Linked DNA regions of Homo sapiens. The protein of the gene in region 4 purifies or fractionates together with the protein of the main gene of each other region. This does not show direct contact. Each region holds a gene or a part of one and is shown on either strand. Other genes may lie near its edges.

The links. Proteins that work in one complex are often made in the same cells at the same time.
Region 1: the proteins of ACTR1A (region 4) and FNBP1 fractionate together in Homo sapiens (co-fractionation; one large-scale study listed by BioGRID). This does not show direct contact.
Region 2: the proteins of ACTR1A (region 4) and SMC4 fractionate together in Homo sapiens (co-fractionation; one large-scale study listed by BioGRID). This does not show direct contact.
Region 3: the proteins of ACTR1A (region 4) and VPS50 fractionate together in Homo sapiens (co-fractionation; one large-scale study listed by BioGRID). This does not show direct contact.

Annotation. Positions count from the first base shown.
Region 1 is NC_000009.12:129,886,687-129,889,938, reverse strand, and holds the end of FNBP1 (formin-binding protein 1), read left to right. Parts: 3' UTR 1-2,752; downstream 2,753-3,252. UniProt on the Homo sapiens protein: May act as a link between RND2 signaling and regulation of the actin cytoskeleton. Required to coordinate membrane tubulation with reorganization of the actin cytoskeleton during the late stage of clathrin-mediated endocytosis.
Region 2 is NC_000003.12:160,433,052-160,435,453, reverse strand, and holds the end of SMC4 (structural maintenance of chromosomes protein 4), read right to left. Parts: coding exon 2,245-2,402; intron 1,798-2,244; coding exon 1,645-1,797; 3' UTR 501-1,644; downstream 1-500. UniProt on the Homo sapiens protein: Central component of the condensin complex, a complex required for conversion of interphase chromatin into mitotic-like condense chromosomes.
Region 3 is NC_000007.14:93,238,866-93,242,365, forward strand, and holds part of VPS50 (syndetin), read left to right. Parts: intron 1-1,000; coding exon 1,001-1,069; exon of another isoform or gene 1,070-1,085; intron 1,086-3,500.
Region 4 is NC_000010.11:102,481,151-102,486,723, reverse strand, and holds part of ACTR1A (alpha-centractin), read left to right. Parts: intron 1-990; coding exon 991-1,115; intron 1,116-2,347; coding exon 2,348-2,564; intron 2,565-3,620; coding exon 3,621-3,713; intron 3,714-4,548; coding exon 4,549-4,723; intron 4,724-4,825; coding exon 4,826-4,887; intron 4,888-5,551; coding exon 5,552-5,573. UniProt on the Homo sapiens protein: Part of the ACTR1A/ACTB filament around which the dynactin complex is built. The dynactin multiprotein complex activates the molecular motor dynein for ultra-processive transport along microtubules.

The sequences.
Region 1 (3,252 bases), on a different chromosome or scaffold from region 4:
GAGCATCTGGCAGGCAGGGGGGCAGGTACACACACACCCACAGGCACACCCACCAGTACACACGCGTGCGCATACACACATTTTGGTTTGACGCCCTGTTTTCAGTGGCCTGGGGAGGTCCACACTGGAAGTCGAATTCCAGCTCGCCTTGTTGACTCGCCTGTGTCCACCGGCCATGAGGAGCCCACGCCTGTCCTCCCCATCACTTTCCTGTCCCTGAGAACTGTAGATCATGCGCTTGTGAGCGAGGCCCTCCCCTCTGCACCAGCTCATTGCAAAGCGAACATCCTCTCCTTTCCAGGAGCCCCAGGATTAGCATCTGAAAAGGGTAGCACTTCCTTTTTTGTTGTTGTTTTTTTTTTTTTTTTGAGACGGGAGTCTCGCTCTATTGTTCAGACTGGAGTGCAGTGGCATGATCTCGGCTCACTACAACCTCCACCTCCTGGGTTCCAGCGATTCTCCTGCCTCAGCCTCCCAAATAGCTGTGATTACAGGCGTGCACCACCACGCCCGGCTAATGTTTGTATTTTTAGTAGAGACAGGGTTTCACCGTGTTGGTCAGGCTGGTCTCAAACTCCTGACCTCAGGTGATCCGCCCGCCTCAGCCTCCCAAAGTGCTGAGATTACAGGTGTGAGCTACCGCACCCCGCCGAGGTTAGCACTTTCATCACCAAAGACCCCGTGCCTCTCGTGGTCCTTTGAGGGATCCCGCCGCCACCACCCTTGTATTTTATCACGTGCTCTTCAGGGCATGTGGAATTCGTTGAGTTTGCTTTTAGAGCCAAGTTTCTTTCCCTGTGTGGGTTTTTGAGGAAAACCTGAGGTCCCCTAATCTGTGGCCACCACCCCCCCCCCCCGCCACGCCTTAGAGCAGAGCAGCCCCTCCTCTCATTTGGTGCAGAAACAGTCAAGAGGAACCATTGGCCTAGAGCTCCTGTGACCGAGAGCGCCACGGAAGCCTGGGGATGACGTCGGGCAGCTTTATTCTTTGCTTGGCTTTGGTAACTAGGTGGTCCCCTCAAGCATCCTCAGTTCCTCTTGCTGTTTATGAATCTAAGACAAGGAAGTCCTATAGAAGCCAAAGGGACAGGGACGGAAAGGACAGGTCCCAAGGGATGGGGCTGTCTTTACTTGTGGAAACCAGGAAATTGCTCCTCTCAGCCAACCAAGGTTGACCACACACCACCCTTCCGGAGCAGCTCAGTCAGCCCTCGGGGACGAGAAACCACAAGCGCAGAGACGCTGAGGCCCAGGCAGGTGAAGAGGAAGTGGCTTTGGGTTTTTAAAGTAGGTGAGCGTGAGCCTCTCTGACTGCTTCTTCCCCGGGGGGGACTGCAAACCGCTCAGGGTTGCGGCAGAGCCATGGACTTCCGGTCCCTGCAACGGGTGACCTAAGCGTGGTGCACCCATCAGTCACGCAGGAGGACTGACTTGACAGACGAAAGACAAGCCCGGATGACACAGGGTGAGAAGAGTCAGGGCCGCACCTCTGTCCCTGCAAACCAACAGGTGCATGGTGAGTGTGGCAGTCCCCACAGCTCCACAATGGGCTCCCCCGCCAACGGGGACGACAGGGATCTTCAGGAACTTCTGACCTCACCAAGTCAAGTGGACCACTCTCCACTCCACGAGGATGTGAAACGGTTCTTTAAAATGGGATTTTAGAGCCTCGGGAATGCATGTGCGTCACATCTTTCATATTATGGGTCAGGATAGATTCATTTCTTGCAACATAGTGGAAAAGATATAAGCTGCAGTAATTTGCTCTTTGAATGACCGTCACCCCCAGTATAGGATATGCTTGTATCCCCCCGTCACTCCTCCGCCTGTTTTTTAAACTTTTCCACCACCTGCGTCCAAAAAGAATGTTATAGCGAGTGCTCTTAAATGTTGAACCTGGGTGTTGCTTCCGGGCCAGTCTGCGTGGCTCCATGAAAAGCTCACTGCTGCCCCAGCCGGGCTTCTTAGAGGAGGTCAGTTGTCCTATGTATCATCATTTACTCTGGGAATCCTACTGTGAAATCATGTCTGTATTTTTCTGGAGCAGTTCACATAGAGTAGAATGTGGAATTTCCCGTGAACGTCTCCTTCCTCCCCCGTATCTGCCGCCTGTCACTTCGCCACCGTGCTAGAATACTGTTGTGTTGTAAGATGACTAATTTTAAAAGAACCTGCCCTGAAAAGTTCTTAGAAACGCAGTGAAAGGGAGGAACTTGTCCTTTACCCAGTTTTTCCTTTGTAGGATGGGAAAGTATAAAAAGGCACAGAAGGTTGTCATGGGCTGTTCCTTGGGGGTTTTTATCCTGCTCACCGTGGAGATAAGCCTGCGGCTTGTCTAACCAGCGCAGCGCAAAGGTCTCGATGCCTTTTGGTAACATCCGTCATTGCAGAAGAAAGTTTACACGACGTCAAAAAGTGACGTTCATGCTAAGTGTTTTTCCAGAAATATTGGTTTCATGTTTCTTATTGGCTCTGCCTCCTGTGCTTATATCATCCAAAAACTTTTTAAAAAGGTCCAGAATTCTATTTTAACCTGATGTTGAGCACCTTTAAAATGTTCGTATGTGTGTTGCACTAATTCTAAACTTTGGAGGCATTTTGCTGTGTGAGGCCGATCGCCACTGTAAAGGTCCTAGAGTTGCCTGTTTGTCTCTGGAGATGGAATTAAACCAAATAAAGAGCTTCCACTGGAGGCTTGTATTGACCTTGTAACTATATGTTAATCTCGTGTTAAAATAAAATATAACTTGTGGCTCCGTGTCACGGGACTGTTTTGTTGCATGAAGATATGACCCTAGTTGTGGAAGCAGCCTGGTGTCATTGGAAGCCCCCTGGGCTGGGGAGCTGGCCCCTGGGAGGAGCTGGAGACCTAGATAGCTCTCAGTTCCACCCCCATCCACGGTGGAGGGGGAGGCTCTCAGACCGTGGTGACGTGGAATTCGGGCTGATGTAGTGCGAGGATTGCGAGAGGCTGCTTATGGCCAGGAGTATTTTTTGCATGCACATTCAACTGGTTGCTGCTCTAGCTCTTTGGGGACCTCATTGCTTGGGGCTGGGGCAGGAGGAGGTGGTGAAATGAGGGCACACCTGAGTTTCATTATTTATCTGGTATCACCAGTGCTCAAGCCGGTACTCCTGGTGGCGTGGCTGGAATCACTAGTTTCTGTGAAGCTGCAGGCAGTGCGGAGCTGTTTCACGTGGACAACTCGAAAGGGCAGCAGCCTTGTGCCTGGCACTGGCTGGACATGTGCA
Region 2 (2,402 bases), on a different chromosome or scaffold from region 4:
ATTTTCACATGGGTTCTGGGTACTTCTAATTCTTTGAAACTTAGTACTGCAGGCTGGGTGCAGTGGCTCATGCCTATAGTCCAGCACTTTGGGAGGCTGAGGCAGGCAGATCACTTGAGGCCAGGAGTTTGAGACCAGCTTGGCCAACATGGCAAAACCCTGTCTACCAAAAACACAAAAATTAGCTGGGCACTGTGGTGTGCACCTGTAGTCCCAGCTACTCATGTGGCTGAGGCACTTGAATCGCTTGAACCCGTGAGGCAGGGTTGCAGTGAGCCAAGATCTTGCCACAGCACTCCACCCTGGGTGATGCAGTGAGACTTTCAAAAAAAAAAAAAAAATCTGAGCTCTACTGCATTGGTTATTAAAATATAATAAAAGTATTAAATTCTATTTTCGCACCAAATGAAAACACTTGATTATCATTATAGCACTTTAAACTTACTTTTCCCTTATATATTCTTGATTTAGAACAAATTACCGTACTTGAATTTCCGATCTTGCTTTCTTTAAATCTTTATTTAAAAGTCCATGCTAATAATGTGTTTACATTTTTACAGTTACATTATGATAGAAACTGTTGGATTTTTTAAATATCTAAAACAATGGCCCACTGAAGAAAGGAACAATTAACTCTTTAATTAATTCCTTAGGATAAATACCCAGAAATTTAACAGCTAGGGCAGACTTCTAATACAATACCGAAAGTCCTTCCAAAAACCAAGTGGTTGCCAACTTATGTCCCTTAGCATTATAACATTCTTGAGCCAATAGTGTAAAAATACGCTGACAATTTTATAGGCAAACATTACTCAAGGTATCTTACTTTCCACTTATTACTAAAGTAATTAACCCCTAAATAGATGCTCCTCAACAGTGGGACTACATCCTGGTAAACCTATCATAAGTTGAAACTATCAAGTTGAAATGCATTTAGTACCCGGATAAACCTATCATAAAGTTGAAAATTTGTAAATTGAACCAGTGTAAATCAGAGGCCATCTTACTTCATACTCATGAAGCAACTATAGTGGGATATTTTTCAACTTACGAGATAGCCTAGGCTTGTTGAAACACTGTCCTAATTTACTGGCTCTCTGGTAATTAAGTCATAAATGGTCAAACATCAAATTCTAGAAAAGCATATATTTAAATTCTCATCACTATAATTCAGAATGACTGGTTTACAAAAATATGTTCATAGTATTTGGGTAATAACTGTGGTGATTGTCTCAACTGGCAAGCTAAGTGGAATGCCTTAAAGAATCTATCCAAGATTAGTTGGCAGGCATTTCCAGTGTTGGTAAATCAAAGGCCCACGAAGGTATGCTGAGCCTTGATAGCACAACCTTGCTTAGGACTTTGCCTCAACTAACATACTTTTTAGTTTGGCAAGTTACCTGACCCTCCAGGTAACTCATTTTTCTCCATAGTCTGCTACTTACAAGATTGTCATATTTTTGTAATCTAGAAGCAATTATAGAGAATATTTTATTAGACTTTACAAATGACAACTGCATAAAACAGAAACCAGTTTCATGATCTAGTTTAGGGAGTATGTATTTTATACAACTCATAATCCTTTACAAATAGAAAAAAATCAGTAATACACTGAATCAACTTGAAGAATCTTCAGCATAAAGTTCAACAAAGTCCCTTAGATGCAATTTCTTTTGGATTTACAGCAACACTTTTTGTTATGTTGTATGTCTTGTAAATTCCAATAAGTCTATCCGAAATCTCAAACATATTATTTCGAAGAGAAATTATTATGAACTGTGCATTTTTTGTTTGTTCCTAAAGAGAAACAAAGAAAAGTCAAACATTAAGTAATAACAGGTAAATCACACAAACATGTAACCTCAAATATTTTTTGGACAATAAACATTACATTGATAACATGTAAAGGAATGATGGCAGGAATAATTCATAAAACAGTATTTGAGTGTGAAAGGAATTTGGTTATTTTGACTTCTAGTGGAAAAGATCTAGGAAGATGACCTAGGATTCTAGCTGTGATTCTGCTACTAATTTGCATTTTTAATTTATATTTTACTCCTCCAAAATGGAAATATTTGGTTCAAATAAAAAATAATTTGGTCTCCACTGATACCAGAGGAGATGGAGATGGAGTTATTAGACAATAAAGAAAAAGCTCAATTGTAAGAAATAAAGAATTCCATGTGTAATGTTTAGGATACCCCTAAAAGTTTCTGGAATGAAAATCCCAAAATGATTACTTACATATATATAAAATGCAACAATGGACACATTTTTAAAATCAAGGGCTGCATCAATCTCATCCATGAAGTAAAGGGGAGTGGGCTTGTAGTGGTGAAGAGCAAATACTAAAGCCAATGAACTAAGTGTTTTCTCTCCTCCCGAAAGGTTGAAGATCTTTT
Region 3 (3,500 bases), on a different chromosome or scaffold from region 4:
GAGAAGGGTGGGTAGGTTAGATATTCTGGGGGTAATGGAAAACTTGCGGTTGAGGCAGAGCACTTTGTAATAAAAAATTTTAGATATGACTAGTGGTATTTTACAACAGGGAAGAGAAAATACACATCTCTGTAGTTTAAAGATAAGCAAGTTCTGCTCTGAGTCTCAAATAGTCAACATAAGCATACCATATATTTTGGTTACTAAGGATCCCCAATATAGGGCACCTAAAGGACAATTTGTATCATAAATCTCTCCTCAAATTAATAATAGCTAATTTTGCCTAAAAACTAATATTGCAGGGACATTAAATGTCTGCTTCGAATAGCCTATTTTTAAAAAGAGGATTTTAAAGAAAATGTAAATTGCTGATTTCTTTCTATTTTAATAATTTCCCCTGGTACAAATAAAGCTTTCAGAATCCCTCAGTTGATGTGAATATAGAAAGTACAGGGCACCAAAGAACTAAAGGACAGGTAAAAGACAGTGAGATATGAGACTTCAATCTTAATTTATGCAGCATGAATTGGATACATTGGTGGGAAATAATCAAGTAAAATGAAGGGATTACTTATATGTTAGCTTAGTTGGTTAGTATATTGTATCTGTGAATCATAATACTATTGCTTGGACTTTTTTCCTGATGGATTTAGTAATTATTATTGTATATACAAGTGGCTTTTATAGAATGCTTTTTGTTATGTAAGTTTCTTTACTTTTGGCTGTTTTCAAATCATAGATGGGTTGGACTTCTACCATTAGTTGTGAAGTTGCCGTATAATACTCTTTTATTTTAAAATACCAAAAGTACACCCTTCTCTGATTTAATAATAGTACTATATGTATTAAATGATGATTGCTTTTAGAATATATCTTCCATATTTTGAAGCAGGAAAATTTCTATTTTTAAAGTGGTCATTTCTGTTTCAGTAGGTGTATTCTATCCTTTTATAATTCTTCAGCATGATTAAAATTTTCCTCATCTTATTATTTTTTTAAGGGTCTGAAAAGCCCTCAAGAAAGCCTCAGTGATCTTGGTGCCATAGAGAGTCTCCGGGTCCCTGGAAAGGTATTGAGCTACACGTGTGAGCGTGACTTTTTACTTCCTTAAGAAAATATGATTGCCTCTGGATAGTAATTGATTCACAGAAGCTTTTCTTTCCCACAGGCAGATGGTTGTTAAGATAAGCTAGGTAAATTTTTATTGTATAGTAGGTGTAGGGCTTGTTTCATTACACGTTGGGATGCAGTATGTATGATGCATTATAGCAAAGCAAAAAATGCAAACTTGATAAATTTGGAATTTATTATATTAAATTCTTAGCCTGAAAGCAGTTGTATATATGTGTATGCACACACACACACACACACACACACACACACACTCTCTCTCTCTCTCTCTCTCATTGATTTATCTGCTGTAATTTGTAGAAATAAAGTGAAATAGTTGACTACTGACTTTTTATACTCCTAACATTCTGTGCCAAAAATCATGATTATATTTTTGTTGTGGAGCAGAGGTTTTTGAAAAAGCATCTAAACCATAGTATTTATACTGAATTGTATAACTTATCTCCTAGATTGTAGGTATTTTAGATTTTAATCCTCTGATATTCACGTGAATTTCTCAGTTTACAAATTTTATATAGGTTATTTGAAAGCTAGCTAGATTCCCCTTGGAATTATTAAGTATTGTTAAATCCCTGCTGTTTTTCTGGAGTGTTGCTGCTTGGAGCTGCCCATGTGAATAGCTGCTCCATCACAGATTAAGCTGGCACTTCTGAATGTCTGTTTTTGTATTTTTTAATTTGAGAGTGATACGTGAAAATACTGTTTGTTTTCTGCATCAGGCATTTGAATACACAGGGTGTGCTTCTCTTGATCAGCAGTTTAAGGCCTCTCCTTACACCTCGGTGTCAGCTCCTTAGGAGGATGATTTCTCATCTCTTTCAGGTGCCTTACCTGCTAAAGTGAATTTTGTATTTACTGCATTGTTTTTATTTTGGGTTAGGCTGAAACATATTCTCCAAATGCAATAAAATTATAACCAACCCTTTTGCATGAAATGGTTCAGACAAAAACTTAAGAAAAGCATTCCGTATAGTTTTATGTAATGTTATTAAAAATTAATGACTATGAAAAGGTTGGGAAACAAGAGATAGCCATAAATCCTAATTAATTGACAATAATTCTCTTTATTTCTTTGAGTTAAGAAAAAGATTATCATGCATTATGAACATACCTTGAATTAGATTGTATTACATATTGCAGAATCAATGTCAAATTGATGAGTGAGCCTCTTTAAAAAAATACATTACAGTCTTAACAAGAACTTTCTGTTGTGTTTCCACCATGAGCCATGATGTTTTCCCAGTACTGGTTGGTAGTGAATATGGTGATCTCATTACAAAGTCTTCTTATTAAATGTACACCCCTAGCTCCATCAGTGACCAGTGCTGTCTGTACTTTTAGGATAACTGGCCTTGGGTGGAGTGGCCAGTCTGGGATCACAAGGTCAGCAAATATAAATGGTTCAGGTGAAGAGTAAGCCTAAAGCACTGGTCTCTTTAGCACATACTAAGAAGCTAAGTTAGTTAAATAATAAAACAGTTAATAGTAAAAAATGTATTGATGCTATAAGCTTACATTTAACCTTACACTAAGAAATCCCTACAAGCTTCATCTGCCTGTTTGTTTTTTCTGTGTTCTCCTATAGCATAACAAATGATGGAGGGTGAGCAGAGCTTCTGCCTTCTTTCTGGGTGGTTCTGAGAACATGAGAGTTGCTGGGTCCAGAGAGTGGCAAAGCTCCAGTCAGTAAACTGAGTCTTTGGATGAGGTTTGAAGTCAGTACTGAGATCAGGAGTTAAGAAGACTCATATTCAGAAATTCCCTACACAGCATAGCTTGATGTAGCTTTAATGTTCAGTATTTTTTCACAATTTAGATAAGACTTTATACTTAGATCATAACACATATATTTTAATGATTTATTTTTGTATAATTGCTTTGAAATTAATGTTGTTGCTAGTTCTTGATGACCTGAAATTTGATGTAATTGAAGAAGATCTTTAAGATCTTTTAAAATTAAGATTAAAAGCATTTTAACAAAATGGAAAATGTTAATTCAAATGATTATTTTGAAATAACTTTTGCTTTAAATATAAAATTAATGTATGCTCTAAACAGAAAACATGGTAAACGGAAAAAGGTATCTTAAAAAAAAAATCACAAAAATCACCAACACTGTCAAGGTTAACATTGCCTACTGGTCTTTTCCCTATGCATATTCCACAAATTTATTGAGTTTCTATGTGCTAGAGATACTTTCTAGGGATTGGCAGTATAGCAGTGAAAAGACAAAAGTTCTCTCCAAAAGTCAAAACTTCCCTGCTGTCAGACAGCGAGCTTACATTCAAGCAGGGGTAAGGCGATTACAGATTATAATACTGTGAAGGAAACAGGGCGATGAGATAAACTCCTTGAAATTGGCAGTTATT
Region 4 (5,573 bases):
CAGTTTTGGGTTTTTTTTGTTTGCTTTTTTGAGATGGAGTTTCGCTCTTGTGGCCTAGGCTAGAGTGCAATGGCGCAATCTCGGCTCACCGCAACCTCTGCCTCCCAGGTTCAAGCGATTCTCCTGCCTGAGCCTTCCTGAGTAGCTGGGATTACAGGCATGCACCACCACCAAGCCCGGCTAATTTTGTATTTTTAGTAGAGACGGGGTTTCTCCATGTTGGTCAGGCTGGTCTCGAACTCCCGACCTCAGATGATCCGCACGCCTCAGCCTCCCAAGGTGCTGGGATTACAGGTGTGAGCCACCACGCCCGGCTGTTTTCAGACAGTTTTTTTAAAGCAGTGGTCCCCAACCTTTCTGGCACCAGGGACTAGTTTCTTGGAAGACAGTTTTTCCATGGGGGTGGGGGTTTGGGGTGGCCAGATAGTTTCAGGATGAAGCTGTTCCACCTCTGATCATCAGGCATTCAATTCTCATAAGGAGTGCCCAACCTAGATCCCTCACATGCGCAGTTCACAGTAGGGTTCACACTCCTATGAGAATCTAGTGCCTTGGATGATCTGATGGGAGGTGGAGCTCAGACAATAATGCTCGCTTACCTGCCATTCACCTCCTGCTGTGCAGCCTGGTTCCTAACAGGTCACAGACTAGAACTGGTCTGCGGCAGGAATTTAGAGTTTCACAAAATCTTCTTGACAGTTGGAGATACACAGTAGACACAGGGGCCTGTATAACAATCTTGGAGGACAAGGAGGGGAGTTGGGGGGCACAGCTGAGGACAGAATGAAATTTTAAAGTGGGCATTAACTTGAAAAGTTGAGAAAACTACTTGGGCAGGGATAGTTGACAGGCACAGCTTGCCTTTTTTTGGAGTGAGGCTGACTGAAGTCCCCGGGCTCTCAAACCAGCAAGGCAGGGTCTTCTCCCCTAAGACTAATGAAGATGGAAATCTGGCCTTGGCCTCATTGTCTCCCGGGCTCCTTTCACCAGCATCCTGTGCTCCTGACTGAGGCGCCTTTAAACCCACGAAAAAACCGGGAACGAGCTGCCGAAGTTTTCTTCGAGACCTTCAATGTGCCCGCTCTTTTCATCTCCATGCAAGCTGTACTCAGCCTGTGAGTAGCAGCTGGCTAGCCCGGCCCCTGCGGGGAAAGCAGTCCTTTGGCACAGCTGAGGCTGGCTCTCCTCTGGAATGGTTCAGAGTAACTTGAGCCCCCTCTGCTAGGGAAAGGTTAAAGATGGTGGGAAAGAGAGAGAGGCTTTTGCTGAAACTGAGCACTGAGGCTTCGTAGTTGAAAGCAAAGAAGGACATGTGGCTGCTATTGACCATATCCCAGTGTCAGGACTCCTAGTGGGTTTGGTCCCCAAGGCCTTGGCTGGGCCTGCCGAGGCAGCCACATGCTGCAGCAGCTCTTCCCGGAGGCCCCCGTAATGTGTCCACTTATTATTCAGCACTTACTGTGGCCAGCTGCTCTGCCAGGCTGTGAGACAACCATGATCCGAATGCCACCACAGTCCTTGTTCCCATCCCCCGTGGCTCCTGTCACACTCCTACCCCACCTCACACCAGAGTGAGGTCTACGGCAGAGATTATCCACAAGTGACCTACACGTGGGATTTATTTGACCCCATTAACAAACTGTGAGCCAGCATTTAAAAATCAAGAGGTGTCCCATCAAAACCCAAATTTTTGGCTTCTCTGAAAAAATGGGAAGATCTGGGAAGGTCGGGCACACATTCCCACAGGGCAAAAATCAGCTGGAGCTGAAGAGCGGCTGCCACTTGAGATGGGGCTGGCAAGCCCACCCTCCCCACAGCCTGTCCATGCTCTGTTGGCCTCTCCGCACTGAAGCAGGGGGTCAGTTGCCTCACTTGCCTTTTTTTGGAGGGAGGCTGACAAAGGTCCCCGGGCTCTCAAACCAGTAAAGCAGGGTCTTCTCCTGCCTTTGTTTTTTATGGAAGTGAAAAATATTCTTATTTTTCTTTACTCTTACTTTTCCTGCCTGGCCCCTGTTGACATTTGAGGGTTTTTGCCTTTTGTCTAGAGAGTTAAAACTGGCCCCTAGGCTGGGTCTCTGAAGCAGCTGAAGGCCAGGCCATCTCAGACAGGAAGGCCTGCTCTTCTGGGTACGGGGAGGGAACTTGGAGAAGATCAGCAACTTCCGTTCAGGTATTTCATGGCTTGCTCCAACACCTGGGCTTCCTTAGTACCCAGTCCATTCTACAGACCCTGGAGAGAGGCAGGCCCAAGCTTTAGTTTAGCTGACATTGAACCCTAAATAAAGAAGTGTATTTCTTCCCAGCGTGAGGAGGCAGTGCTGAGTGACGGTTTGCCCCTTTGCTTCAGTTACGCTACAGGCAGGACCACAGGGGTGGTGCTGGATTCTGGGGATGGAGTCACCCATGCTGTGCCCATCTATGAGGGCTTTGCCATGCCCCACTCCATCATGCGCATCGACATCGCGGGCCGGGACGTCTCTCGCTTCCTGCGCCTCTACCTGCGTAAGGAGGGCTACGACTTCCACTCATCCTCTGAGTTTGAGATTGTCAAGGCCATAAAAGAAGTAAGTGCTGCCCCCTGGGCCTAGGGATGGAGTGGGGGTTGGGAGCATAGCACCCAGGACCTTGGTGACCTGCCAGTGAAGCCAGGCAAAGCACCTGCCTGGGGGTCCCTGGTGAGGCCTTGTTCTTCCCAGCCAGGTCTCCCCTACGTCACACTGACAGATTCGCCTTCCTGACGTGCTGCCATCTTGTTGGGGGAAAGGGAGCTGCTTCCATTTCTTCAGTTGGGTGATGGCTACATAGGGGCTCAGTATGTTTTTTATACCTTATATGCAAATTACATAGGGTTTGGTTTTGTTTCATTTTGTTTTGTTTCTGAGATGGAGTCTCGCTCTGTCGCCCAGGCTGCAGTGCAATGGTGTGATCTCGGCTCACTGTAACCTCTGCCTCCCGGGTTCAAGCAATCGCTTGAATCCTGCCTCAGCCTCCCAAGTAGCTGGGATTATAGGTGCCTGCCACCACACCCCACTAATTTTTGTATTTTTAGCAGAGACATGGTTTCACCATGTTGATCAGGCTGGTCTCAAACTCCTGACCACAAGTGATCTGCCCGCCTCAGCCTCCCAAAGTGCTAGAATTGCAGCATGAGCTACCGCGCCCACTCCTGGTTTTTTTATTTTTATTTTTTTAACATCCTTGAAGAAGTCATAATACATTTAAAACATTTGTCTTTGTAAGTAAACTGAAACCTCCTGCCACCTGTGGCTATAGGGAAAACTCGAGCTGGGTAGGACCAGAACCATATGAGTGGTAGAAGGAGAAAGATGCCTGGGCCTGGGCTGAACTTAGGTTGTGGTCTCAGACCTAGGATCCAGGGGCCAAGTTTCCAAGCTTGCCCATCAGGAAGGTGGAGCGGTTAAGAACTCATATGCTAAATGCCACCCAGTGAAGGCCAACAGAGACCTCACTGCCCCTGCTTCTGGGCAGCAGCTATAGTGACCATTGGGGCCATCACAACGTTTAGACAGGTTTGTGCAGCAGCACATTCCTCCCCTGGGCCTTTGACTGGATGTGCACCAGATTTCCTGCCAGCCTGACTGTCTTGCTTGGATCTGCAGAGAGCCTGTTACCTATCCATAAACCCCCAAAAGGATGAGACGCTAGAGACAGAGAAAGCTCAGTACTACCTGCCTGATGGCAGCACCATTGAGGTAGGTGGCCTGCCTTCTTTCTTCGGTCCCCTTAGGTCCACAAAAGCTCTGGGCCCAACCAGAATTCTCCATCAGGGTCTGGAGTCTGGCAGGCCAGTCCCTTTACACCAAGCTTGTCCAACCCCTGGCCCATGGGCTGCACGTGGCCCAGGATGGCTTTCAGTAAGGCCCAACACAAAGTCGTAAACTTTCTTAAAACATTATGAGATTCTTTTGCAATTTTTTTTTTTAGCTCAGCAGCTGTCATTAGTGTTAGTGTATATTATGTGTGGCCCAAGACAATTCTTCTTCCAATGTGGCCCAGGGAAGCCAAAAGACTGGACACCCCAGCCTTACACCCTCTCTCTGGAGCAGCAGAGCTCCTGAGCATGAGTGGCCCTGTCTCCTGCAGAGGAGGCAGCCAGAACTTTGCTCCCTCCCGCTAGAGGGGAGGAAGCTCCTAAGGGATTGTCCCACATCAGTATGAGATTAGGAAGTGGGATGGTTAGTGCCATCCTTCACCACACCTGGGTGCAGTGTAGGGTGAGTTACCACTCCCTTGAACCCCCATTGCTAGGAAGACGTTTCCATGAGCAAATAAATCCATGTACTGATGCCAAAGACCTCTTGGCTGGAAAATGCCAGAGCGAGAAGGAAATATAGGAGCCTCCCCTCACTAGTTTCCAGGAGGCCTATCTTTGTTCCTTTAAGCCCTTGACATGTAGAGTCTGTCTTGAGCCTGGCCTTCATAGCCACCCAGTTACTAAGTGACGTGCAGAGGGGCGTCTTCCATTCCCACTCCCAAAGGGACCTTGGTCCCAGCTCCGACCTCTTCAGCTGGCCCTCCTACCTGCAGATTGGTCCTTCCCGATTCCGGGCCCCTGAGTTGCTCTTCAGGCCAGATTTGATTGGAGAGGAGAGTGAAGGCATCCACGAGGTCCTGGTGTTCGCCATTCAGAAGTCAGACATGGACCTGCGGCGCACGCTTTTCTCTAACATTGTCCTCTCAGGAGGCTCTACCCTGTTCAAAGGTTTGTCTCTTCTCTTGGAGCCCTTCCCCTGGAAGTGTTCAGCTCCTGCTGGCTCCAGGCACCCTGAGAATTGACTTGAAGTTCTCCTCTTTGCCCATTCAGGTTTTGGTGACAGGCTCCTGAGTGAAGTGAAGAAACTAGCTCCAAAAGATGTGAAGATCAGGGTAGGAGCATGGTGGGGCCTGGCCTGGGTGGAACTAGGCTTCCATGGACAGAGTGCCACCTGGCGTAGCTTCCCTCTAGCTTTGCCCAAGCTCTTCAAGCAGCCATGGCTCTACAAGCAGCGCCAGGTTCCCAGCCTGTACACTGACCCTGAGGTCTAGGTCAGCCACAGGGAGGCTGAGTTCTCATTCTCCCTCTTCACACCAAAGGCAGGCAGTTCTAATACCCAGATGAGGCAGGGTACTAGGTAGAGGGCCCCCTGCGTGATCTTTCAGGGAAACTATAATCTTAAGAGGAGACTGACTTACTGTTGCTGTGCCCCCTGCCCAGGTGGCTCCCCTGTCACACAGTCTGACACCTTAGTGATAGGTGAAGGAGGTTGGCTGTCTGAGGAGAGCGGGGATCCTAAAGGAAGGAGTACAGTTCTTGCCATGGAGTCTGCTTCTCCCTGCCCCCCCCAATAGTCCCAGCTTCCCTGGGACCTGTGGGGACTGGAAACCTGCTTCCCCAGATGAGTGGCAGGCTGGCCACAGTGCCCTCCAGAGAGGCCAGAGCTTCAGGCTTGTGTAAAATGTATCCCCTGCCATGGGCAGAAAGAGGAGCATTGTAGGGAAAGGGAGCGGGAGGGCTGGAAGTCTCAGATTCCTCTTTCCCCCACCTTTGCAGATATCTGCACCTCAGGAGAGAC